Linked DNA regions of Homo sapiens: regions 2, 3, 4 and 5 are each linked to region 1. The links come from fine-mapping of genetic effects on gene expression. A gene starts in region 1. Each other region holds a variant in brackets. All regions are shown on one strand. Distances are between the middles of the regions.

Region 1 (5,166 bases):
ATTAACTTTATTTATTTATTTGTTTATTTATGTTTTTGAGACAGAGTCTCACTCTTGTCGCTCAGCCTAGAGTGCAGTGGCACAATCTGGGCTCACTGCAACTTCTGGCTCCTGGGTTCAAGCGATTCTCCTGCCTCAGCCTCCTGAGTAGCTGGGATTACAGGCGTGCGCCACCACACCCAGCTATTTTTTTTGTATTTTTAGTAGAGATGGGGTCTCACCATGTTGGCCAAGGATGGTCTCGATCTCCTGACCTCGTGTCCCACCTGCCTCGGCCTCCCAAAGTGCTGGGATTACAGGCGTGAGCCACCACGCCCGGCCTCATTTTTTTATTTTTAGTAAAGACAAGATTTCACCATGTTGGCCAAGCTGGTCTCCAACTCCTGACCTGAGGTGATCCGCCTCCCTCGGCCTCACAAAGTGCTGGGATTACAGGTGTGAGCCACTGTGCTGGGCCGAATGGATTGGATTTTAAAGCATACTTCAGGCAGATGGAATAAGGGAATAGTCTGAGTAACGGTGATGAGAAAAGAAAGAATTGGCCAGGTGCGGTGGCTCACACCCATGATCTCAGCACTTTGGGAGGCTGAGGAGGGCAGATCCCCTCAGGTCAGGAGTTGAAGACCAGCTTGGCCAACATGGTGAAATCTCATCTTTACTAAAAATACAAAAATTAGTCAGGTGTGGTGGCGGGCACTTGTAATCCCAGCTACTCGGGGGGCAGAAGTTGCAGTGAGCCAAGATTGTGCCACTGCACTCCAGCCTGGGTGACAGACTCTGTCTCAAAATAAAATAAAATAAATAAATAAATAAAAAAGAAATAATTGTATTTGATGACTTGGTGAGTCAGCTAGCATAAGACATGTGTACCAGGGAGTAGTATAAAACTACAAGGTTGTTTAGCTTGGAGTTAGAGCAACTTGTCAATTTTATTCCCGAGGCAATGGGAGGTGTTTAAAGTTTTTTTGCGATGCTGTCTGAACTATACTTTAGGAAGCCTATGGTGGCAGGATGAATTGAAGGCACAGGAAAAGGTTTCAATATTCAATAGTCCAGGGAAAAGAAACGGAGGACCTGCAACTAGGTGTTGGCACTAAGGGATGGAGCTTTGCCTAGATTTTCCCTTTGTAGATTCTTCTCTTCCTGGATGGAAAATGATAAAAGGAAATTCTTCTGATAGTAAATTATAATGTTGACTCCAAAATCAATTCTAGATAAAGGCGATTAAATTGCAAACCCAGGATGCCTGTCTGAATGGTCCCTGCATTCAAAGATATTTTCCCCTTTACAGGAGCACCGGATAAATTTAACTCCCTAATCTGTCAAGGGCTTTGTGGAAGAGCCTGGAGGGGGATCGAAGGCGGAACTGATACTGACACACCTGGGTCTGCAAACTCCCAAAACTGAGGCTCAGAATTAGTAAATTAGGGCAGGGCACTTCCCTCTTTGGAAGGGAAGTTCCTATTTTCAAAGTTCTTCCAACGGAACTTTTACATTAGAGAAGTGTAATTGACTGAGAAGTGGAAGTGACCAGGAACAGCATTTCTGTTCCCTGGGCGGGAGAGAGAACCCCCTCGGGCGGAGCCAGCAGCAGGTCAGCTTCTGAGGGGGCCCTCATGCTGGCGGCGCCGACCTGTGGTGCAATGCTCTGAGTAGGAGAATCTTAAATACATGTTTGAGATTCAATTCCCAGAAACGTAACTAGTCTTCACAAGCCAAAAAAATAAAAATAAAAAATAAAAAAAGGAAGTGATTTCTTTTCAAGAGGTCAAAGGGCCTGGAAGAAGAGGTCCTGGCTTGAGTGTCTCAAGGCTTTCTGGGGCCTAATCCGGCTGGAATGGGCCGCAGCATTCATATTCCTGTCCTTGGTCGTGTCTTAATGAAGAATTGAAAATAATAAGGGGTGGAGAAATAACTTTCCTTTTTCTCCCACCATCCTCCCACAGTGTAAATAAACAAATAACTCTAAGCTCGATTTCCTCATTTGTCAGGGGTGGGGAAAGACTTGACATCAGGACTCTTCCATTCCATCGCCACCTGTCTTAATTTAAACATTCCCATGACCCACCCCAGAAGCGCCAACCTCCCGCCCACAAGGAGCATGGAAGTCTTGGTTTCTGGCTACTGCGCAGACTCCACCTTGGACCTACTCCCCAACCCCCCGCCGCTCCTTTCCCCGTTTCTCCAGCAGAGGGCGCAGGCCCAAAGGTTCCGCCGACCCCGCCCCAGCCTGGCCCCGCCCCGCCCCGGCGTAGGGGCGGGGAAGACGGGCACAGAAACCTGGCCGCGGCTTTCCGGGAGCTGTGGGCACGCGAGCTGCTCGAAGCCGGTGGCCCGGGGATCGTCGCTGCCCAGTCCGGCCGCGGCCGGCCGCTTCCCCGAGCTTACCAGTAAGCCGGTCCGCCTCCGGGACGCGCCCCGCCCGCCCCGGGCTCGCGCGCTCTGAAGGGGCGCGTCCCGCGCACTCCCGGCGCCGCCCACTCCCCTCCCCACGGCCGCTCCTCCCTCCGCCCGGATAGCCGGCGGCGGCGGCGGCGGCGGCGGCGGCGGCGGCCGGGAGAGGCCCCTCCTTCACGCCCTGCTTCTCTCCCTCGCTCGCAGTCGAGCCGAGCCGGCGGACCCGCCTGGGCTCCGACCCTGCCCAGGCCATGGCCGGCAACGTGAAGAAGAGCTCTGGGGCCGGGGGCGGCAGCGGCTCCGGGGGCTCGGGTTCGGGTGGCCTGATTGGGCTCATGAAGGACGCCTTCCAGCCGCACCACCACCACCACCACCACCTCAGCCCCCACCCGCCGGGGACGGTGGACAAGAAGATGGTGGAGAAGTGCTGGAAGCTCATGGACAAGGTGAAAGGCCGGCTGAGCGCCCGCTGTTGCAGGGTGGGCGTGGGCGGAGGGCCGCGGGGAGGGGAACGAGCGGACGGAGGAAGCGGGGGAGGGGACGGGTCTGGTGAAGCCGGGGAGGCGCGGAGCCGGGGTGACCGGCCGGGGGCGTGGGGGCAGGGACGAGGCCGGGAGGGTGGGGGGCGGCGTGGGGGAGGGGCTGCCGTTGGGAGTCGGGGAACGCTGGGGTGCCGCGTTTGGGGTAGCCAGACAAAGATGGAGTGGGGGCTGGGGCGAAGGTTAACTGGGAAGTCAGTGGGGCGGAAGTACAATGAGGGGTGCGGAGTTTGGGGCTCTGTGCAGGGTGTAGGGATGTAGGTCACGGAATTGGCCTGGGAGGTTAGCAGGGAGGGGGTGAGGAAGAGTGATGTACCGGCTGGGGCTCTTGGCTGGGTGAGATCTGACTAGGGAATTAGGTTCATGGGCTCTGACTGAGGAACCTGGCTGGGGTCAGGACAGCTCTCAGGGAAGCTGTGCTCTGGGTGAGAGTATAGTCCTTTCTCATTAAGATGTAACACGAAGATAAAAGACATATTGATGTTTAAGTGAGGCAAGGAAAGAACTTTCCTCCCCATCTAGCGCCGGCTCAAGTTTTTTGTTACCCTCAGAAACACTGGATGTGATCCATTGCTGGTGCTGAGATATGCACTGATTAAACCACAAGTTCTGGTTAGAACTATTATCTTCTGAAAGATGGACTGGCTGAGCCTGTTAAGCAGCAGCAGATTCTGACTTCTTAATAACTTCCTCCCTACTACATCGCTTGAGCTGGGTTCTTTTTTTCTGGTAACGGTTCTGACTCCTTATTACAGGTCCTGACTTTAAACTTGTTCGTTGAGCTTCTTTGATTACGCTTTTTTGTTTGTTTGCTTTTTGCAAGTGCGAACAAAAATAACTCCTTTATATTTAGCCACTAAGTTTGTCATTTGGGAGAATTTTACTTCCTTATAGTTGTGTCTATATGATGAAATGTAGTCAGTCTCAAGTATTTAACTGTTTAAGCAGTCGGACGCTTTGTCAGAATTCAATACGTTTTCTTGGTATTTTTCATATTCTTTAATTAATTACTTTGACAAAATTCATATTGCGTATGAAAAGTGATTAGAAGTATCTGGCACGTTTTAAGAGAATGGTGTTATTTCCTCCAGGGTAAAATTTGGTTTTCTTTGGTTCCTCCCTGGGCCTCGGTTCCTCTTCTGTAAAGTTCTTCATGGGTTGCTTTGGACTAGAAACCGCTAATAAAATGATTATGAAGCACTTAGCCAATGTAATGTGCAATTTAAATGCTTAATAAGTCCTGTGTGTGAATTAACACTCCAGTAGTGCATGCCAGTGGTTTCATAGCCACCTTTTTAGGGCTGGCTTTTCTCATGTTAAATAATTGGTATTGTAATTAATGACACAAGTATTCGTGTGTTGATTATATTGGTGGTGTAGTACTAATTTTATTGTTAGAAATTATAATAAAATCCTTACAGAAAGTTTAGGTGTGTAAAGGAAACTTTAAATGTGTCGACTCCTTTAAAAAAAACACATCGAAGATATTCAAATGCTAAAGTTTGTTAGTTTGCTTTTTAGGGATTTATCGTTAAGGACTACAAATTTTACTCTGGCATAGAAAAAATACTTTTCTAATGAGTGTCTCGTATCAGACATGTGGGTGCAGTACAATCAAAATTGTGTTGATTAGTGGCCTCTGCTTAAGAATAATCTGTTTACTAAAGAGTTTCTGTATTCTGTATTCTTTTTTTTTTTTTGAGACGGAGTTTTTCGCTCTTGTTACCCAGGCTGGAGTGCATGGTGCGATCTCGACTCACTGCAACCTCCGCCTCCTGGGTTCAAGACATTCTCGTGCCTCAGCCTCCCGAGTAGCTGGGATTACAGGTGCGCGCCACCACGCCCAGCTAATTTTTTGTATTTTTAGTAGAGACGGGGTTTCATCATGTTGACCAGGCTCGTCTCGAACTCCTGACCTCAGGTGATCCATGCGCCACGGCCTCCCAAAGTGCTGGGATTACAGGTGTGAGCCACTGGGCCTGGCCCTGTATTCTTAAAGAATAAGAGTATTCTGTATTCTTATTAAAGTGTTTCTATAAATACAGAGTAAGTTGTAGATAGTCCTATTCTACAAGGTAGCCCAAATAAAATCCTCCCTTAAGTCTTACTCCTTCATCTATTTAAAGTATGTGTATTGAATTTTGATTTATTCTGCAGAATGTTTAATTATTTGGGAAGAATAAAGAGGACTCAAAGTTTAGACTCAAATTGCTTTTCAGGTTTGATAGTT
Region 2 (5,170 bases), 27 kb before region 1:
AAAAATTTTTAATTTTGTAGAGATGGGGTCTCACTAGTGATCCTCTCACTTTGGCCTCCCAAAGTGCTGGGCTACAGGTGTGAACCACTGTGCCCAGCCAACTTTTTATTTTTATAGGCACCAAAGCATAAGGGCTAAGAACAGGGATTTGGTAACTCAGCTATTTGAGTTCAAATCCAGGCTCTGCTACTTATTAGCTGTGAGACTTTGGACAGGTTACTTAGTTCTGTGCCTCAGATTCCTTATCTGTGAAATGGAGATAATACTAGAACTTATATCACTGGCCTAATATGAAGATGAAATGAACTCATCCTCAGGGTCTAGGACATGGTAAGTGCTATTTAATTGTTTTTTGTTTGTTTGTTTTTTTGAGATGGAGTCTCGCTCTGTCGCCCAGGCTGGAGTGCAGTGGCACCGTCTCTGCTCACTGCAACCTCCACCTCCCGGATTTAAGTGATTCTCCCAGCTCAGCCTCCCAAGTAGCTGGGACTACAGGCACCTGCCACCATGCCCGGCTTATTTTTGTATTTTTAGTAGAGACAGGGTTTCTCCATGTTGGCCAGACTGGTCTTGAACTCCTGACCTCAGGTGATCCACCCACCTCAGCCTCCCACAGTGCTGGGATTACAGGAGTGAGCCACCACGCCCGGCCTATGCTGTTTAATTGTTTGTCACACATAGAAACAGACTTAGTTCCAGACCAGCCTGGCCAACATGGTGAAACCCCATCTCTACTAAAAATACAAAAATTAGCCGGGTGTGGTGGCACGTGTCTGTAATCCCAGCTACTCGGGAGGCTGAGGCAGGAGAATCTCTTGAGCCCAGGAAGTGGAGGTTGCAGTGAGCTGAGATCGCGCCACTGTACTCCAGCCTGGGTGACAGAGCGAGACTCTGTCTCACAAAAAAAAAAAAAGAAAAAAGAAAGAAACAAAGAAACAGGCTCGGGCAGCCCACCCCTTCTCACACATCACCTCCGACAGGAGGTCACAGCTGCTGCTGAGGCCACCCCGCCTTGAGGATGTGCCTGCCGGACCTGAGTTGCAACGAGAGGCTGCAGTCTCCCGAGGGGATTCAGAAAGCCCCCAGTTATTGAAAACCCAGCAGAATTGTCAGCCCTGCACCCCCAAGCCCTCTTGGAGGGAGGGTTGCCCTGGCAGAGCACTGAGCCCATCTGTTTATTCACCATCCTGTGGATTCAGCTTCACAGGGTGACATATTCTGTCACAGGTTGGTGTTGGAGAAGGGGCACTATCACCTCTATGAGAGTAACCTCACATATAAACATGAAAACAAGCCAGGTGCAGTGGGGCACACTTGTAGTCACAGCTGTCAGGAGGCCAAGGCAGGAGGATCGCTTGAGCCTAAGAGTTAAAGGCTACAGTGAGCTATGATCACACCACTGCACTCCAGCCTAGGTGACACAGCAAGACTCTGTCTCTAAACAAATAAAAATTAAAACATTAAAAAGTAAAAAAAACCCAGATGTTAAAGGACGTGCCACAAAACAACGTCATGGTTTGTTGCCAGAGGAATGACCCTTCTTCCCTTTCAGAACCATTGCAGGAATGGGGGAAGATATCACAAACCCCCAACATTTATTTCTTTGTCAGATATTTGAGTGCCTGCTGTGTGCCAGGCAATGTGTTAGAATCTGAGGAAATGTCAGTTAACAAAACTACAGGTTTCAGCCCTTTCTGATCTAGTCTGAGCTCCTCTCCCAGAAGGAAACTGCTACTTCCTGCACAGTTTGAGCACAAAAATATCAATGTAACCATATAAGGAAAAATTACAGCAAATGCCTGGGAAGAAGGAGCCCCAGATGCCATGAAAGTGTATAGTGGGGGAACTGGTCTGCGGGGTCAGGAGAGCCTCTTTGTGGAAGGGCATGTCGTCTGACCCTTGTAGCATTAGCCAAAGGAAGAAGTTGGGGGAGGGGAAATGCCCCAGGAAAGGGCAGCACCCTGGAGGCTTTTTTTTTTTTTTTTTCTCTTGAGACAGGGTCTTGCTCTGTTGCCCAGGCTGGAGTTCAGTGGTGTGATCTCAGCTCACTGCATCCCTGACCTCCAGTGCTCAAGGGACTACAGGCACATGCCACCATGCCTGGCTAATTTATTTTTAATTAAGAAAATTTTTTTAATAGAGATGGCATCTTGCTACATTGCCCAGGCTGGTCTAGAACTCCTGGGCTCAAGTGATCCTCCCACCTCGGCCTCCCTAAGTGCTGGGATTACGGGCATGAGCCACTGCACCTGGCCTATGGAGGCTTTGAAGGAGGAAAAACCTTGGCACTGTTAAGATGAAAAAAGCCGAAAGGGCAGGAGCATAGCGAGTGGGGCCAAGAGGCTTGTGATGAAGGCATCGTAGTCGGCAGGGCCCAGATCACACAGGCCCTTAAAGCAGTAGGAACTGCATGTTGAAGATGGTGATGTATTTGTGATACCTAGCCCGGTCCCAAACTAAGTGTGTAATACATGCTAATTCCTTCTCACCACCTCCTGGGTTTGAAAATGTATCAGGGTGTTTGGGAAAGAGAAAGAAGTTCCTAATGTCTGCAGCACATGAGACAGGTGTTGAGAGATGACCCTGGAAAGGTCAAATTAGGGCCAAATTATGAAAAGTTTTGGGCCAGGTGCAGTGGCTTATGCCTATAATCCTAGCACTTTGGGGGGCCTAAGCTAGGGAGCCCAGAAGTTCAAGACCAGCTTAGGTGACACAGCAAGACCCCATCTCTAGTTTTAAGAAACGTTTCATATTCCAGGCTAAATGTTTGGAGTTTGCCACATAGGCAGTAGGGAGCCATGGAAGGTGTCGCAGCAGGGGAGTAGCATGATCAGACAAATTATGCTAAGTTCAAGGGGAGATCACAGGGCTGGAGCAGTCATGGGAGTGTACCTTAAGCTGAACCTTGAAGGCTGAACAGGCACATGGAAGGCCACAGTGACTCTCCCCTGCTTCTTTTTCAGGTGGTTCCACGAGTGTTTGGGCGCATGGTGGGTAAAAGCCGGGAGGCGGTGGCTCAGGCCATGGTGCTGGAGATGTTTCGAGAGGAGGACTACTACAACGATGATGTTCTGGACCAGATGGG[C/T]GCCAGTATCCTGGGCGTGGAGGGCCCCCGGCGCCACCCAGATGAGCCCCCTGAGGATGAAGTCTTCGAGCTCTTCCCCATGTTCATGGGGGGGCTTCTCTCTGCCCACAACCGAGCTGTGCTAGCTCAGCTTGGCTGCCCCATCAAGAACCTGGATGCCCTGGAGAATGCCCAGGCCATCAAGAAGAAGCTGGGCAAGCTGGGCCGGCAGGTGCTGCCCCCATCAGAGCTCCTTGACCACCTCTTCTTCCACTATGAGTTCCAGAACCAGCGCTTCTCCGCTGAGGTGCTCAGCTCCCTGCGTCAGCTCAACCTGGCAGGTGTGCGCATGACACCAGTCAAGTGCACAGTGGTGGCAGCTGTGCTGGGCAGCGGAAGGCATGCCCTGGATGAGGTGAACTTGGCCTCCTGCCAGCTAGATCCTGCTGGGCTGCGCACACTCCTGCCTGTCTTCCTGCGTGCCCGGAAGCTGGGGTGAGGACCTATCCTCATGCACAGGCATGAAGAGGGAAGAGGGTTGGAGGTGAAGAAGTGGGAAAAGAAAGTGCCAGGGAAACCAGAGGTACCGATGAGTGACCAGAAGGTGGGATGAAGAAGTCTAGTTTAGGGGCCGGGAGCAGTGGCTCACACCTGTAATCCCAGCACTTTGGGAGCCCAAGGCGGGCGTATCACCTGAGGTCAGGAGTTCGAGACCAGCCTCAACATGGAGAAACCCTGTCTCTACTAAAAATACAAAATTAGCCAGGCATGGTGGTGCATGCCTGTAATCCCAGCTACTTGGGAGGCTGAGGCAGGAGAATTGCTTGAACCTGGGAGGCGGAGGTTGCGGTGAGCTGAGATCATGCCATCGCACTCCAGCCTGGGCAACAACAGCAAAACTCCGTCTCAAAAAAAAAAAAAAAAGTCTAGTTTGGGTGGAGGTGACAGGAGCAACAGAAGGGAGGAGCCAGGCATGGTGGCTCCTGCCTGTAATCCCACTGCTTTGGGAGGCCAAGGCAGAAGCATCACTTGAGCCTAATAGTCTGAGACCATCCTGGGCAACATAGCAAGACCCTGTCTCTACAAAAAATTAAAAAATTAGTCAGGTGTGGTGGCATGTAGCTATCATCCCAGCTACTCGGGAGGCTGAGGTGGGAGGATTGCTTGAGCCCAGGAGTCTGAGGCTGCAGTGAGTTGTGATCATGCCATTGTGCTCCAACCTGGGCAACAGAGTGAGACCCTGTCTCTCAAAAAAGGGGAAGCAGGTATAGATTCCCAGAGGCAGGCTGATGAAAAAAAGGCATGGTAGATGGACAGACTGCCTGCTGAATTCCCTCCCTGGTCTCTCACCTCCCCTCTGGCCACCTTCTGCTCCAGCTTGCAACTCAACAGCCTGGGCCCTGAGGCCTGCAAGGACCTCCGAGACCTGTTGCTGCATGACCAGTGCCAAATTACCACACTGCGGTGAGTGACCTGGGAGTGGGGCATCCTGGTGGCCAGCTAAGGTCAAGGGTGAGCTCCCTGCTTCCTGACATACTTGGCACAGACCCACCCAAGGGATAGTAAATGGAGGAGAGTCTAGGCCCTGACCTGTCCCCTCCACTTCCCCCAGGTCCACTGCAAGCAGCAGGGCAGCAGGGAAACATGCCACCTGTAATGGGTGCTAAGAAACCTCTCACGTGGCTAAAATCAGCCTGGGGGAGGTGGGGAGAGAGGGTGGAATAATACCTAGGCCGGTTGCCTGGTAACAGTGCCACTGATCCCCTCCCAGGATTTTTCTTGCAGCCTCCCGAGGAGGACCCTAATGCTGGGCACTCAGTAGACACCCCTTAAGTGTTGACTGATATGTGGGGAACCTGAGCTCCTGGGTTCCCAGTTTCTGATTGGTGTAAGGGGAGGCAAATGAGGAGAGAAAAAGGAAGAGCAGGGAGAAGGATAGGGGAGTCAGAGGGGAGGGAGAAGCAGAGGCTGTGGAGGGGGTGAAAAAGGCAGAAAAAGGGAAACGGAAATGGTGAAAAGGAAGGGAATAGATAAGAAGGGAGTCAGGGGAAGAGGGAAGGAAAGGCCAGCTCCCCTACTCTGACTCCTCTGCCAGGCGCCACACCC
Region 3 (5,170 bases), 48 kb before region 1:
GGGTATCCCTCCAAGTGCCTGAACCGTAAAGGATACAGATGCGGCCAGAGTGCCCTCTTCCTGCCAGCTTCATCCCCTTCACAGCAGCTGCCCCGCCCCAGACACTCCCTTCTTTTGGCCTCACCCACCTCACGTGGCCCCCTGGTGGCCTCTCTCTGGACAGTGGTCTGGATAGCGCCTCTTGTTTCCAAGTGGTGTCCCTCATGAAGTCCCTGGCACAGGGGGGCCGTACCATCATCTGCACCATCCACCAGCCCAGTGCCAAGCTCTTTGAGATGTTTGACAAGGTGAGTGTCTCCAGGCCTCAAGGAGGATTGGCCTGAGATGGAGGGATGGAAGGGGGTCAGTAGGGGTGCCTGGCCCGCTGTTCCTTCCTTACCCTTCTCTTTCTGCTGCAGCTCTACATCCTGAGCCAGGGTCAGTGCATCTTCAAAGGCGTGGTCACCAACCTGATCCCCTATCTAAAGGGACTCGGCTTGCATTGCCCCACCTACCACAACCCGGCTGACTTCAGTGAGTGGGGGTCTGTTGGTAGGGGCTGGGAAACAGCAGTGGGCCGAACCTGGGGTCTCTGGTCTTGCACTCAGGCCTCCTAGGGGTAGAGATCTCACCGTCGCCTGCCTTCCCCACACACCCAAGGCGGGACTGACTTGCCCTTGGGAAGTGAGTGTGAATCTAAACTGAGCTCTCCACTCTGTGTCCCCAGTCATCGAGGTGGCCTCTGGCGAGTATGGAGACCTGAACCCCATGTTGTTCAGGGCTGTGCAGAATGGGCTGTGCGCTATGGCTGAGAAGAAGAGCAGCCCTGAGAAGAACGAGGTCCCTGCCCCATGCCCTCCTTGTCCTCCGGTGAGTAGGGGTGGAGAGGGCAGAGCAGGCATAGTTGGGGAGGGGAGACTGGACCATGGACAGTGGCCCTGCCAAAGAGGCTGTTCCCCAGAGGCATTGCAACCAATGGGTGCTAGGAAGAACCTAGGACTTGGAATCGACCTACTAGGAACAGCACTGTGACCTTAGGCACATTATTTAACCTCCTTGAGCTCCAGTTTCCTCATTGACTTATTCATTCAGCAAGTTCTTGTTGAGCAGCTACAGTGTGCTGTCCTCGGTCCTGGCATAGTGCCCATCTGGTAAGCAAGATCAACATGGTCCCCAGCTTAGTGGCCAGTGTGGCTTACTGTTCTCTCTAACTTAGAGATGATGATACTCACCTCACAGGGTGATTGGGAGGACTAATTAGATAATCACATAAAGCTCTTAGCACTGTAGCTGGTACAGCAGGCGTCTGCCCAGTGCTAGTTCTCTTCCTTAAATGAGACACTGTAACCCCTGAAAACCAGATTGATTAGTTTTTGTTGTTATTGTTGTCATTATCATCATTATTAAATAACATTACTGTAAAATTGGTGGCATAAAGGAATTATACCTGGCCGGATACAGTGGCCCACGCCTGTAATCCCAGCACTTTGGGAGGCCGAGGCGGGTGGGTCAGGAGATGGAGACCATCCTGGCTAACACGGTGAAACCCCATCTCTACTAAAAATACAAAAATTAGCCGGGCGTGGTGGCGGGCGCCTGTAGTCCCAGCTACTCGGGAGGCTGAGGCAGGAGAATGGCGTGAACCAGGGAGGCGGAGCTTGCAGTGAGCTGAGATTGCGCCACTGCACTCCAGACTGGGCGACAGAGCGAGACTCCGTCTCAAAAACAAAACAAAACAAAACAAAAAAAACCCAAAACAAAACAAAAAAGGAATTATACCCTTAGAGTTCATGTGTTTTGATGGATTAAAAAAGTAACCGATCTATTATTAGCCACCACGGGTGTCCATTACTTTCTTTCCATCTCCTCCCTCCCAAGTTTTTGCCCCCTTTTTGTGTCTGAATCTTGCTCTGATTCATACCCCTAAGCCTAGCTTTCAGGTACACAACTTAATGGTACAAGATTCTCTGTAGACCTGGAGGACCCCTACCCTGGGGAAGAGCTCTGAGGTTTTTCATTCACTGAGCTGGGTGTTCTGTGGGTGAATGGGGTAGGCTCACCTGATCCCGATCCAATTTCTTCTTCCCAGGAAGTGGATCCCATTGAAAGCCACACCTTTGCCACCAGCACCCTCACACAGTTCTGCATCCTCTTCAAGAGGACCTTCCTGTCCATCCTCAGGGACACGGTGAGGCGTCAGGCTGGGGGAGAGGAGGCTGGCACAGGCCTGACCTTTTGGGCTGTAGGATCCCAGCAGCTGAAATGGGAATGGGGACCCTCCCTCACAGCCCTGCAATGTGCCTGTGGGGTCTCTGTGCCTGTGAGGGCAGCTCCGAGTTCCTACTCCAAGTCTACTCTGTGGCTTGCCCTGGCCTGTAACACATCCCTCTCCTGGTGATGACCCCTCCCAAGGTCCTGACCCACCTACGGTTCATGTCCCACGTGGTTATTGGCGTGCTCATCGGCCTCCTCTACCTGCATATTGGCGACGATGCCAGCAAGGTCTTCAACAACACCGGCTGCCTCTTCTTCTCCATGCTGTTCCTCATGTTCGCCGCCCTCATGCCAACTGTGCTCACCTGTGAGCTGAGCTGCCCTGGGCATGGGGCAAGGGTGTGGGTGCTGGGGCTTGGGGCAGGGGCCAGGGTGTCGGCCGGGTGTGCCTAAGCAGCCTGTGTCCTCAGTCCCCTTAGAGATGGCGGTCTTCATGAGGGAGCACCTCAACTACTGGTACAGCCTCAAAGCGTATTACCTGGCCAAGACCATGGCTGACGTGCCCTTTCAGGTGGGCCTCTTCCTCCCACCTGCCCACTGCCTCCATCTTGTCTTGCTCCTTCTATCCTTGCTTTCTTGCCTCCCTCAAACTTGTCACTTTCCTTCCTTTGCTGTCCTTCTACTCACTTAGCAAATAGATGGTGAGTACCTGTCATAGCCCAGGCTCTGTACCAGGCCCTAGGGATATAGCATTGAACTAGACTGATGTAGTCTTGACCA[T/C]GTGGAACTTATGTTTTAGTGAGGACAACTGACAACAAACAGAAAATGATGAAAATAACCCTATAGGGCCAGGCGCAGTGGCTTGCGCCTGTAATCCCAGCACTTTGGGAAGCCGAGGCTGGAGGATCACTTGAGCTCAGGAGTTTGACACCAGCCTGGGCAACATGGCGAAATCCCATCTCTACTAAAAATACAAAAATTAACCAGGCTTGGTGTTGTGCACCTGTAGTCCCAGCTACTGGGGGCAATAACCCTACAAATGACTCTGTAACTCTTATTAGGGGCAGTAGAAAATGGTGTACTCTCTGGCTCTTACTGCCACTTGCTACCTGCAAGATCTTGGGCAAATCACTCTCTTTGCTAAAGTGTACCCATCTATAAAATGGAATGACAATAGTATCTACCTCAGGATTGTTAGAATTGAATGAGTTAATGTATATAAAGTACTTAGAATAGTGCTTGGCACATACGAAGTGCCCAGCAAATGTTAGCTGGTTGTTGTTACCGCCAATACCACCCTGTTCCAAGCATCAGGGCCACCAGTAATCCATAGGGCACATCTGTGCAAGTTAGAAAAAGGTGCCCCTTCCTCAGGGTGGACACCGTCACAGGATGCTTGGCTTAATAAGAAGAGCACAAGCTGGACCTTTGGCCTGGTTGGCTCTTGGTTGGATGCCCTTGAGCAGTGGATGACTGTACTTAGTAAGCTCAGACCCTGCCCCCTAGGAGTTGGTAGCTCATGGGGGAACAAAATGGCTCTCCTATGGAGAGTTAATTACTTAACAATATAACGAATAAGCTGGTCCAGGTGGGAAGGACTTTAGGCGCTCAGGGAAGGGAAGAGTCACCGTGCCTGAAGCAGTCAGGGTGGACCAAACGGAAGACGTGAGACGAGATAAGTGATGGTCATATGGCCAGGGAGGAAGGGGACGTGTGTCAATCTGGGGGACAGCTTGAACAAGAATGTGGAGGCAGGATGGACACCCTGGGAATAGGTATTCTAGAGGCCCAGCCTTGGGTGGAGTGGAGGTCTTGGCTGCTGTGCCCCTGGCTTGAAGTCCACTGTCCAGCCCGTGCCCACTCCCCAGGTGGTGTGTCCGGTGGTCTACTGCAGCATTGTGTACTGGATGACGGGCCAGCCCGCTGAGACCAGCCGCTTCCTGCTCTTCTCAGCCCTGGCCACCGCCACCGCCTTGGTGGCCCAATCTTTGGGGCTGCTGATCGGAGCTGCTTCCAACTCCCTACAGGTGGGAGGGCTGGCAGTTGGGAATTCCCAAGGCGGGATGAGGTCTTGTGGGAGGAAGCAGGGCCTGGTGCAAGGGTTAGGGTGGAGCTCTAGGAAACCTGGGTTTGTCCTGGTCACCCCTATGATGGCCTGGCCCCCTCCCTTCCCCTCTAGGTGGCCACTTTTGTGGGCCCAGTTACCGCCATCCCTGTCCTCTTGTTCTCCGGCTTCTTTGTCAGCTTCAAGACCATCCCCACTTACCTGCAATGGAGCTCCTATCTCTCCTATGTCAGGTCAGTACCCCTGCCCTCCTCGTTGGCCTCTGCTCCTCCCTGGAGGAGTCCATACCCAGGGCTTCCTGGGTTGTGCCAAGTCTGCTGCCTGCCCCATTATCCTTTGGGCAGGGGCACCCTGGCTGCACCCCAGGGATGACAGCATTGCAGCTGGGCTCTGGCAGTTTTCTCAGAGAGCAGGGACCCTGTGTGCTGTATCCCATCTGATATCCCTGCCTGCCTAGGTATGGCTTTGAGGGTGTGATCCTGACGATCTATGGCATGGAGCGAGGAGACCTGACATGTTTAGAGGAACGCTGCCCGTTCCGGGAGCCACAGAGCATCCTCCGAGCGCTGGATGTGGAGGATGCCAAGCTCTACATGGACTTCCTGGTCTTGGGCATCTTCTTCCTAGCCCTGCGGCTGCTGGCCTACCTTGTGCTGCGTTACCGGGTCAAGTCAGAGAGATAGAGGCTTGCCCCAGCCTGTACCCCAGCCCCTGCAGCAGGAAGCCCCCAGTCCCAGCCCTTTGGGACTGTTTTAACCTTATAGACTTGGGCACTGGTTCCTGGCGGGGCTATCCTCTCCTCCCTTGGCTCCTCCACAGGCTGGCTGTCGGACTGCGCTCCCAGCCTGGGCTCTGGGAGTGGGGGCTCCAGCCCTCCCCACTATGCCCAGGAGTCTTCCCAAGTTGATGCGG
Region 4 (5,000 bases), 88 kb after region 1:
TGATAATGCTTATTTTCCTAGCTGCCTACAAAACGTTTTCCCCTGCTCTGGGTCCCAGCAGTTTTACTGTATCTTCCTTTGTGGTTTTGTTTATATTTATCTTTTAATCCTTCATAAGTTTTCATACTTTTTTTTTCGAGACAGAGTCTCACTCTGTCACCCAGGCTGGAATGCAATGCTGTGATCTCAGCTCATTGCAACCTTTGCCTCCCAGGTTCAAGCAGTTCTCCCACCTCAGCCAAGTAGCTGGGATTTTAGGCATGTGCCACCATGCCTGGCTAATTTTTGTATTTTTAGTAGAGATGGGGTTTCACCATTTTGGCCAGGCTGGTCTCGAACTGCTAATGTCAAATGATCCACCTGCCTCAGCCTCTCAAAGTGCTAGGATTACAGGCATGAGCCACTGCACCCTGGCCTCCTTTTCTTTTTCAGACACTAACTAGAACCAAACCTCCGTAAGTTTGGTAAAGTTTATTTAGTTTGTGATATGTTTAATCAGTTTTAGGACATTGTCAGCCACTTTTCCTGAAAACAGACTGAATATTGCAGTCCCTCTTTGTCCTCCTCTTCTGGGACTACCTTTTCCGGAATGTTAGACCTTTTCACTATGTCTCCGAGAGCTCTTATGCTGATGTCTTTTTTTTTTTTTCCATTATTTTTTTCTTGGCATACTTTATTTTCTTTTTTTCTTTTCTTTTTTTGAGGTGGAGTCTTGCTCTGTCACCCAGGCTGGAGTGCAGTGGCGCAGTCTTGGCTCACTGCAAGCTCCGCCTCCCGGGTTCATGCCATTCTCCTGCCTCAGCCTCCCGAGTAGCTGGGACTACAGGCGCCCGCCACCAAGCCCAGCTAATTTTTTGTATTTTTTTAGTAGAGACGGGGTTTCACCACGTTAGCCAGGGTGGTCTCAATCTCCTGACCGTGATCTGCCCGCCTTGGCCTCCCAAAGTGCTGGGATTACAGGCGTGAGCCACTGCGCCCGGCCTATTTTCTTTGATTTTTAAATTTATTCAGCCTCCCTAGTAACTGAGACTATAGATGTGTGCCACCACACCTAGCTAATTTTTGTATTTTGTGTAGATACGGGGTTTTGCTGTGTTGCCCAGTTTTATTTTTCGATACAGTTGCTCCTCAACTTAAGATGGGGTTATGTCCCAGTAAACCCATTGTAAATTGAAAGTGCATTTTGACTTACAGTATTTTCGACTGGGTTTTTCCAAATATTACTCCATTGTAAGTAGAGAAGTGTATTTGATGTTTATTACTTTTGCACCATTGTAAAGTTGAAAAATTGTAAGTTGGGGATGTCTGTGTTGTATTTTTAAGTTCTAGTATTTCCATGTGATTTTTAAAAATGTATCGATTCCATCCTTTTTTTTTTCTTTTTTGAGACAGAGTCTCACTCTGTCGCCCAGGTTGGAGTGCAGTGGTGCAGTCTCGGCTCTCTGCAACCTCTGTCTCCCAGGTTCAAGCGATTCTCCTGCCTCAGCCTCCTGAGTAGCTAGGATTACAAGCATGTGCCACCACCACGTCTGGCTAATTTTTGTATATTTAGTAGAGACAGGGTTTCACCGTGTTGGCCAGGCTGGTCTTGAACTCCTGACCTCAAGTGATCCACCCACCTTTGCCTCCCAAAGGGCTGGGATTACAGACGTGAGCCATCGTGCCCATCCCATCTTCTTTTTTTTATTGAACACATAAATTATTATTTTAATGGCCATACGTAACTCCAACTCTGTCCAGCTTGGCAAGACAGCCAAAATATCTATTTAGCTTTTCAATTGCTGCTTTCTGCTTGTTTTCTCAAAATCTAGCCCCAAGCGTAAACAGTTTAGGGATTTGTAATAGCTCTAGGGAAAATTGCTGGCATTTCAGGTATACTTCTCTGCTGTTCCCTCCTCTGTATTTTTTGGTCCCTTATACCTTGGCTGTCATTATACCCCAAAATTCCTGTCTCTTCTTAGTCTGTTTTCTGTTGTCATAACAGAATACCTGAGATTAAGTAATCTATAAAGAAAAGAAGTTTATTTAGCCCACGCTTTTGGAAGCTGGAATGTTGAAAAGCATGGCGCTGGCATGGTGAGGGCCTTCCTGCTGCCTTGTAACCAGGCATCAGCATATGAAGGTGGTAACTAAGTTTCCAACATGTGAAACTGGGGGACATATTTAAATCGTAGCATTCTCACCAGCCCATTGAGACTACTTTAAACGCCTAGTTCAAAACCCCTAATACAGGGCTTACTCTAATGTATTCTTTCTTGAATCTTAGCCTGTTAAGTCGTGGCTGCCTGGTTGCTCTCCAGTGTCTTCTTTCTTTTAAAGCATATATTGCCAACATGCTTTGTGAGAAGGAGGTTCAATTATGTATTTTATGGACTTTATTAACAGAGAATTATAATTAAAATTTTTAAAAGTTAGGCACGGTGGCTCACGCCTGTAATCCCAGCACTTTGGGAGGCCAAGGTGGGTGGACCACTTGAGGTCCGGATATCGAGACCAGCCTGGGCAACATGGTGAAACCCTGTGTCTACTAAAAACACAAAAATTAGCTGGGTGTGGTGGCGGGTGCCTGTACTCCCAGCTACTTGGGAGGCTGGGGCAGGAGAAATGCTTGAATCTGGGAAGTGGAGGTTGCAGTGAGCCAAGATCACGCCATTGCACTCCAGCCTGGACGACTGAGTCTC[C/T]GTCTCCAAAAAAAAAAAAAATTATTGCCTTTTTAATGGCCCTTTTTACAAAAATAATACATGTTAACTAAAATTTAGAAAATATAGGTAAGCAGGCTGGGTGCGGTGGCTCACGCCTGTAATCCCAGCACTTTGGGAGGCCAGGGCTGGCAGATCATGAGGTCAAGATCGAGACCATCCTGGCCAATATGGTGAAACCCCGTCTCTACTAAAAATACAAAAATTAGCTGGGTGTGGTGGCATGTGCTTGTGGTCCCAGCTGCTCGGTAGGCTGAGGCAGGAGAATCGCTTGAACCTGGAAGGCAGAGGTTGCAGTGAGCCTAGATCACGCCGCTGCACTCCAGCCTGGTGCCACAGTGAGACTCCGTCTCAAAAAGGAAAAAAAAAAAAGGAAAAGGAAATATAGGTAAGCAACACTGAAGAAATAAATGTTACCTGTAATCCTATCAGACAATAGTTAGCAATTTGATACATGTTCATTGCCATTCTTCCTTGTATGAAATCATATTGTCATTGCTGGTTTTCACTAAAAATATCTTGAACATCTTTGCATGTTATTACATATTCTGTTGCAATGATTTTCAAATTATTTCACGATTATACATCAGTGTAACTAAAGTGGAATCTCAGTTTGTAAAATAGATAAGAACAGATCTATTGTAGTAGAAGCAGCAGTAGGCTTCCGTGGCTCCGGCTTGGAACCTCTAAGGCACTTGGGGACACAGTTGTGTGGTTCAGTATTTATTCAGTACATTATTATTTGGTATTGAAGTTATTGCCTAATTTTCCAGCATTATAAATAATGCTGCAGTGAATGTTCTTGATGGTTTCCTTAGGGAAAATTCTCAGAAATGGAATTTCTGAGACCAAGAGTATGCATGTTTGGTAAATACTTTTGTTGAATTACACAACAGAAACGTATCAATTCCTTATTTCTACAGCTCTGTAACAAAGTACCCATTCATTTCCCTACACCTTCACTGACACCGTGTGGCCAAATACCACATTAAGAACAAACTAGGGATGGGTGGGGTGACTCAGGCCTGTAATCCTAGCATTTTGGGAGGCTGGGGCGGGAGGATCACTTGAACCCAAGAGTTTAAGACCAGCCTGGGCAACATAGTGAGACTCTGTCTCTACAAAAAAAAAAATTTTTTTTAATTAGCCTGGTATTGTGGCACATGTCTAGTCCCACCTACTGAGGAGGCTGAGTTGGGAGGATCACTTGAGCCCGGGAGATCAAGGCTGCAGTGGGTTGTCATCATGCCACTGTGCTCCAGCGAAAAATCTAGGTGTTTCTTTCTGAATATGGACTGTCCTCCCGCCATCTCATTTTATTGTGAAAAGTTACAAAGATAGTAAAGGTGAAAGAATTTTACAGTGAACACCCATATACTGATCACCTGGATTCTACTTTTAGCATTTTATTATACTTGTTTTATCAGACTATATGTCTGTCTTTTGATGTTTTCAAAGTAAATTGTAGATACCAATACACTTCTGCCTCAGAACTTCAGCATGCATTGCACAAATCTTAAGTGGATATTTCCCATTAACGGCAAAAAACACAATTACTTTTGCACCAACCTAATAAAAGTAATATGTAGATATAAGAAAAAACCTCAAGTGAGATTAAAGGGGACTTCTATGTTCTGTGTTAAGTTTCTATAGCACTTATGTGTGTATTATAAATGTGTTGCTTTTATAATTAGGAAAACTAAGCATCAAGCAGACAAACGAAAGAGATGCTCCTTGTAGCATCTTTAGGATATGCAAAAATAATAGGAAGGGAGGAGAAACACAAATTCACACTCCAAGAAGTAGGTTTTTGTGTGTCTTTTTTTCCCCCCTACAATTTAGTGGGGTGTTTTTGTATTTCTTGGGAGTTTTTTCATTTCATTTCATGCGGTGGCAGAAGTCTTGTTTCCAAAGTTTCTGGGTGAAAGTTACATGTGGATATAACAGCCAGATCCTTGATGTGGGAGTCAGTAGATCTGGGATCTAGCCTCAGAATTTACGCTAACTGCGGTCGCTTTATCTCTCTCTATTTTAAATTTTTCTTATATAAAACAAGGAGTTTGAGAAAGCTTTTGACAAGCTATGCATTCCTTGAAACCATAGGTAGAGTTTAGAATTGGAATTTAGTTTACAGTTCTAACATTGTCAGAAAAAATCTTGCCGTTTCTCTAACTCTAGGGCCTGGGACTCTATAATGAAACTTCTGTGGGGGATTAGGACTAACCAGTATCTCAGGTGATTAGCCCAGTATATCACCTCTGAAGCATAAAAGCTGCACCTTTGGTCAGTTGAAAGTGACAT
Region 5 (5,000 bases), 69 kb after region 1:
TTAGGCCCAAGTTTCTCTTTAAAGGCCTTCATTTTTGGCCAGGCACAGTGGCTCACTCCTGTAGTCCCAGCACTTTAGGTGGCCAAGGCAGGAGGATTTCTTGAGGCCAGAAGTTTGAGACTACTACCCTGGATGACATTACAAGACCTGGTCTTTATTTGTAAATTATTTTTTATTTTTCTTTTCTTGTTTTGCAGCAAGGTTTCACTCTGTTGCCCAGGCTGTAGTGCAGTGGCACGATCTCACTTGCAACCTCTGCCTCCAAAGTTCAAGTGATTTTCCCCCCTCAGCCTCCAGAGTAGCTGGAACTAATTAGTCTGGCTAATTTTGTTTGTTTGTTTGTTTTTGTAGAGACAAAGTTTCACCATATTGCCCAGTCTGGGCTCAAGCAGTCTGCCCACTTTGGCCTCTCAAAGTGCTGGGCCTCCCAAAGGCATGCACCATGGCTCCTGGTCCCCTTCTTTCTTTTCTTAAAGAAGTTGACCTGTATTTTGAATTACGAGAATTGAAATTGGTATTGAGAGCTTAATGTGGCTCTCCTTCCTTTCCTTGATTATGGCGATGCCTGGAATTATCTCTGTTATTTCACTTTATGCCTCCTCTCCACCCCCTCCCCAGGACAATAGTCCCTTGGAAGAGCTTTCGACAGGCTCTACATGAAGTGCATCCCATCAGTTCTGGGCTGGAGGCCATGGCTCTGAAATCCACTATTGATCTGACCTGCAATGATTATATTTCGGTTTTTGAATTTGACATCTTTACCCGACTCTTTCAGGTAGGACACTAAAAAAGTTGACTAAACTGGTTACTGCTACTTCGGTGAAGAGAAAGCTTTTTTTTTTTTTTTTTAAATAACATTTGGGGTTTTTGTCTGTATGAAAGTATTTTAATTCATTTTAGGAACTATGCCAAAAAAAAGATTAAAACTATCTCATATTAAAAATATATGTATGTGTGTGTATGTATATATAGTGAAAATGACAGCTATACCAACTGCTTTCTTCTCCTCACATCTTTCCTTGTTATTGAATATTCTTCTTTTGTATCATTTTAATGTTTGTAGAATGGCCAGAATATGAATATATTAGTTTTCTGATATTGGATATTTGTGTATGTTTGCAACTGTTTCTCCTGTTTTATTGAAATTGACTGTTAATATTGAGATGTTTAGATGCTTCAAAAACAACTCCTTTCTTTTTCTCTAAAAATAATGCTTTCTCTGGTGTTGTCTGTGCCAATTTGCATACACATTTATTTGGAACTTATTAGTTGCACCTATAGGCCCTATCCTGGTTTTCAGTTTGTTGTTGTTCAACCCCACTACTGTTAATTAGAGCTGCTTTACAAATTCTAGAATTTTCATTTTGTGTCAAGTTTCTCCCTATAAGCATATATTCTTTTCTTCGTAGCTTTTCAGAGTTTTTAATCTCCTGAACACATGTGTCTTCTCTCTGAGTGATGGTATAATTAAAAATTTCTGACAATGAACTGAGAGTTGGTGTTGTTTTTTTTTTTTCTCATTGCCCTCTGAGTTGGTTGTACATCTGACCTGAATAGTCTGTGATTGATCTTGTTTCTTTAGCCCTGGTCCTCTTTGCTCAGGAATTGGAACAGCCTTGCTGTAACTCATCCTGGCTACATGGCTTTTTTGACGTATGACGAAGTGAAAGCTCGGCTCCAGAAATTCATTCACAAACCTGGCAGGTCAGTTCAATGACGCAAAGAGATTTATTCTTCTGAATTTCGTTATCTTGAGACTTCTGCTAGTATAGAAGAAACATGACCTTAATTAGTTTCGCAATAGCCAAGGTTCTGCAATAGGATTGATACCTGTTTATCAGACGTATTGACTTAATTCAGATCCTATAATTTGATAAATGTTTTCAGGCCACTTAAGAATTGAATTTATGGCCGGGCACAGTGGCTCACGCCTGTCATCCCAGCACTTTGGGAGGCCGAGGCGGGCAGATCACGAGGTCAGGAGTTTGAGACCAGCCTGGCCAAAGTGGTAAAACCCTGTCTCTACTAAAAATACAAAAATTATCCAGGTGTGGTGCGGGTGCCTGTAATCCCAGCTACTCAGGAGGCTGAGGCAGGAGAATCACTTGAACCTGGGAGGTGGAGGTTGCAGTGAGCCGAGATCATGTCATTGCACTCTAGCCTGGGCAA[T/C]AAGAGCGAAACCCCATCTCAAAAACAACAAAAACAAAAAAAGAATAGAGTTTATGTGTCTTTTGCTTCTGGTGTGGAGTCATGGAAGAAGTTACTCTCTTTTTAAAAATATTTTCTTTCTTTTTTCTTGTCACTGACTTGAAGCTCAGAAGTAGTTATTCTTGGCTGGGTGTGGTGGCTCACACCTGTAATCCCAGCACTTTGGGAGGCCAAGGTGGGCAGATACTTGAGATCAGAAGTTTAAGACTGGCCTGGCCAACATGGCGAAACCCCATCTCTACTAAAAATACAAAAATTAGCCAGGTGTGGTGGCACATACTGTAGTCCCAGCTACTCAGGAGGCTGAGGCAGGAGAATCATTTGAACCCAGGAGGTGGAGGCTGCAGTGAGCTGAGATTGTGCCACTGCACTCTAGCCTGGGTGACAGAGCCAGACTCCATCTTAAAAAAAGAAAGAAAGAAAGGAAGAAAGTTATTGTTATTCTTGATGGTTCTTTTGATTTTTGTCTGTATCTTGCCTTGCCTTCCACCGTAATACCAGCATAATCTACTAAAGCTTCTGTTTATGTCTGTTCATAGTTATATCTTCCGGCTGAGCTGTACTCGTCTGGGTCAGTGGGCTATTGGGTATGTTACTGCTGATGGGAACATTCTCCAGACAATCCCTCACAATAAACCTCTCTTCCAAGCACTGATTGATGGCTTCAGGGAAGGCTTGTGAGTACCTACTGCATACCATCTGTTAGAGTCTGGGAACTTAGGGGCTGTCCAACCTCATCATTAATGACTTTATTCCAGGTTTCTTAAACTGCAGACTAAGATTCAGGAAAATATTAACAGATGATATTGATTTGACCTTCAGGTCCTGGAAGACTTTTGTTTTTCTTTTTTAGGGATTCCATGAGTGAAATTATTCTCTACCACTTCAGTTATTACCATAAATAAACTTTATCTTTCTTTTTTCCAAATGTTAACTTATTTTCAAGCCTGTGTTAGGTTTTAAAATATACCAATTAGCAGGAAATTTGACCAGTTATTTAACTAGTCGGCATTCAAGTGATTCAATGTTCCTAATAGCCATAGGCCTCAGTGGCCTTCATCTGCTTTCATCCTCACTTCGCTTTTGTTCAGCAGCATTTCTTCAGGCCTTGGGCTACTGTAACCTATGCTGCTATTTATAACTAAGTCCTTATTTATTCCAGAATTGCTATTCCTTTGAGAATTCAAATTAATTATCAGTTGGTAAACACTTAAAAATACTAACAGTTGACCAGATGGCAGAAAACTAGCTTGTGTTTTGAAGTGATTAGGAAAATACATTTTATATTATACATTATCTTTTACTTACAATAGCATTGGGACTGAAAGGAGTGCTGCCCCAAATGTCAGAACAGTTTGATGCTAGAAACTGTGGATCTCCCTGGTAGATGATCTCAGTAGCTTAATTTGCATATTGTTACATTGCTTTTAAATTGGTGTCTCTCATTTTCTTAAACCTGTAAACCTTCTTTGATCAAAAGCAAATGCAGTTTAAACTAAGAAGTTAAGCCGGGTGCAGTGGTTCACACCTGTGATCCCAGCACTTTGGGAGGCCGAGACGGGTGGATCACCTGAGGTCAGGAGTTCAAGACCAGCCTGGCCAACATGGCAAAACCCTGTCTGTACTAAAAGTACAAAAAGTTAGCCGGACGTGGTGGTGGGTGCCTGTAATCCCAGCTACTTGGGAGGCTGAGGCAGGAGAATCACTTGAATCCAGGAGGCGGAGGTTTCAGTGAGCCAAGATCACTCACTGCAACCTCAAAAAAAAAATAAGAATCTGTCGCGCACACACACACACACACACACACACACACATAAAGAATTTCTATCTGGTGGCCATCCATTGATTAAAAATGGGTTGGTAAACTGTGACCCATGGGCCACCTGTTTGTTCCCCCGGGGAGCCAAGATAGCTTTTCCTAAGAGTCGTTTTGAAAAAAACAATCAGAGAAGAATATGTGACACAGACTAATGTGGCCTACAAATCCTAAATGATTTTCTATCTGGCCCTTTACAGAAAAGCTTGCTAACCAACCCCTTGATTAAAAGATAGAGCCTATGGCATTGTTACCTGGAGAAGGAATAATAGTTTTTGGAGAATATCTTTAAACTGTTCTGTGTTTTTTATTTTTTTGAAGTATTATTTTTTGGAAGTATTTTTTTTTTGAAGTAAGATTGATCTTTATACTTACACCACGTTGCCCTTTTAGAATGGAGAAACTCCCAGATTCCATTTGTCTATATTAGCAAGCACTGGCAAATTGGCTTAAATAAAACCCAGGGTTGGTTACTCTTTACAGCTATTTGTTTCCTGATGGACGAAATCAGAATCCTGATCTGACTGGCTTATGTGAACCAACTCCCCAAGACCATATCAAAGTGACCCAGGTGAGTTTTGTTTCACATGATAACCATATCACTGGACACAAGCTTTAGTATATTCTTTATAGAACTGACAGCATAATTGAATTCATTGGAACCCATTGACTAGATTAGTGAATTTGTGTGTATGTGGTTTCACTTTAAACCCTGGAGCTTAAAATAGGACCCAGACTAGATGCTTTCTGGTTTAATAAAAAATAAACCACTGTTGTGACATTTTTATATAAGCAAAATTTGTATAGGAAACAAGTCTTCACTTTTTCTGTTAACATTTATAATTGCAGTTATTTATTCAACTAATAGTCTTTTAATTTTTTTTAATCAAAGGAACAATATGAATTATACTGTGAGATGGGCTCCACATTCCAACTATGTAAAATATGTGCTGAAAATGATAAGGATGTAAAGATT

Direction of the effects. Alleles are on the strand shown, and positions count from the first base shown. SD is a standard deviation of normalised expression in the study named. Not every link is listed here.
For the expression in thyroid of the gene that starts at base 2,570 in region 1, T is the low allele of the variant in region 4 and C is the other (small effect, 0.25 SD a copy in GTEx).
As copies of T replace C in region 5, the expression in sigmoid colon of the gene that starts at base 2,570 in region 1 goes up (moderate effect, 0.48 SD a copy in GTEx).

Evidence for each region. PIP is the estimated chance that this variant, and not a neighbour inherited with it, causes the effect.
Region 2: its variant is the best candidate, but not a certain one, in a credible set for the expression of CBL in whole blood (TOPMed, PIP 0.71).
Region 3: its variant is the best candidate, but not a certain one, in a credible set for the expression of CBL in whole blood (INTERVAL, PIP 0.76).
Region 4: its variant is the best candidate, but not a certain one, in a credible set for the expression of CBL in thyroid (GTEx, PIP 0.77).
Region 5: its variant is the best candidate, but not a certain one, in a credible set for the expression of CBL in sigmoid colon (GTEx, PIP 0.55).

What each region holds. Positions count from the first base shown.
Region 1 is chr11:119,203,770-119,208,935 of GRCh38, forward strand. It overlaps CBL (Cbl proto-oncogene), which reads left to right and starts at 2,570. Exons shown (of 16, transcript NM_005188.4): 1 at 2,570-2,843. The coding sequence starts at 2,649. RefSeq lists silencers at 2,078-2,147, 2,188-2,577, 2,648-2,837, 3,028-3,087.
Region 2 is chr11:119,176,730-119,181,899 of GRCh38, forward strand. NLRX1 (NLR family member X1) reads left to right here. Exons shown (of 10, transcript NM_001282144.2): 7 at 2,964-3,559; 8 at 4,442-4,528. Among named protein-coding and RNA genes, the nearest start is that of NHERF4, 6.2 kb to the right of the region's middle. The variant C/T (reference allele first, on the strand shown) is at 3,086.
Region 3 is chr11:119,156,166-119,161,335 of GRCh38, forward strand. It overlaps ABCG4 (ATP binding cassette subfamily G member 4), which reads left to right. Exons shown (of 15, transcript NM_022169.5): 7 at 164-287; 8 at 399-513; 9 at 707-849; 10 at 2,069-2,167; 11 at 2,392-2,560; 12 at 2,664-2,764; 13 at 4,062-4,220; 14 at 4,373-4,491; 15 at 4,716-5,170. The coding sequence ends at 4,941. Among named protein-coding and RNA genes, the nearest start is that of ABCG4, 9.7 kb to the left of the region's middle. RefSeq lists enhancers at 482-982, 2,406-2,905. The variant T/C (reference allele first, on the strand shown) is at 2,974.
Region 4 is chr11:119,291,738-119,296,737 of GRCh38, forward strand. The region is part of intron 12 of CBL (Cbl proto-oncogene); the gene reads left to right. Among named protein-coding and RNA genes, the nearest start is that of MIR6756, 19 kb to the right of the region's middle. The variant C/T (reference allele first, on the strand shown) is at 2,682.
Region 5 is chr11:119,273,250-119,278,249 of GRCh38, forward strand. It overlaps CBL (Cbl proto-oncogene), which reads left to right. Exons shown (of 16, transcript NM_005188.4): 4 at 619-775; 5 at 1,583-1,704; 6 at 2,748-2,885; 7 at 4,508-4,595; 8 at 4,917-5,000. Among named protein-coding and RNA genes, the nearest start is that of MIR6756, 37 kb to the right of the region's middle. The variant T/C (reference allele first, on the strand shown) is at 2,170.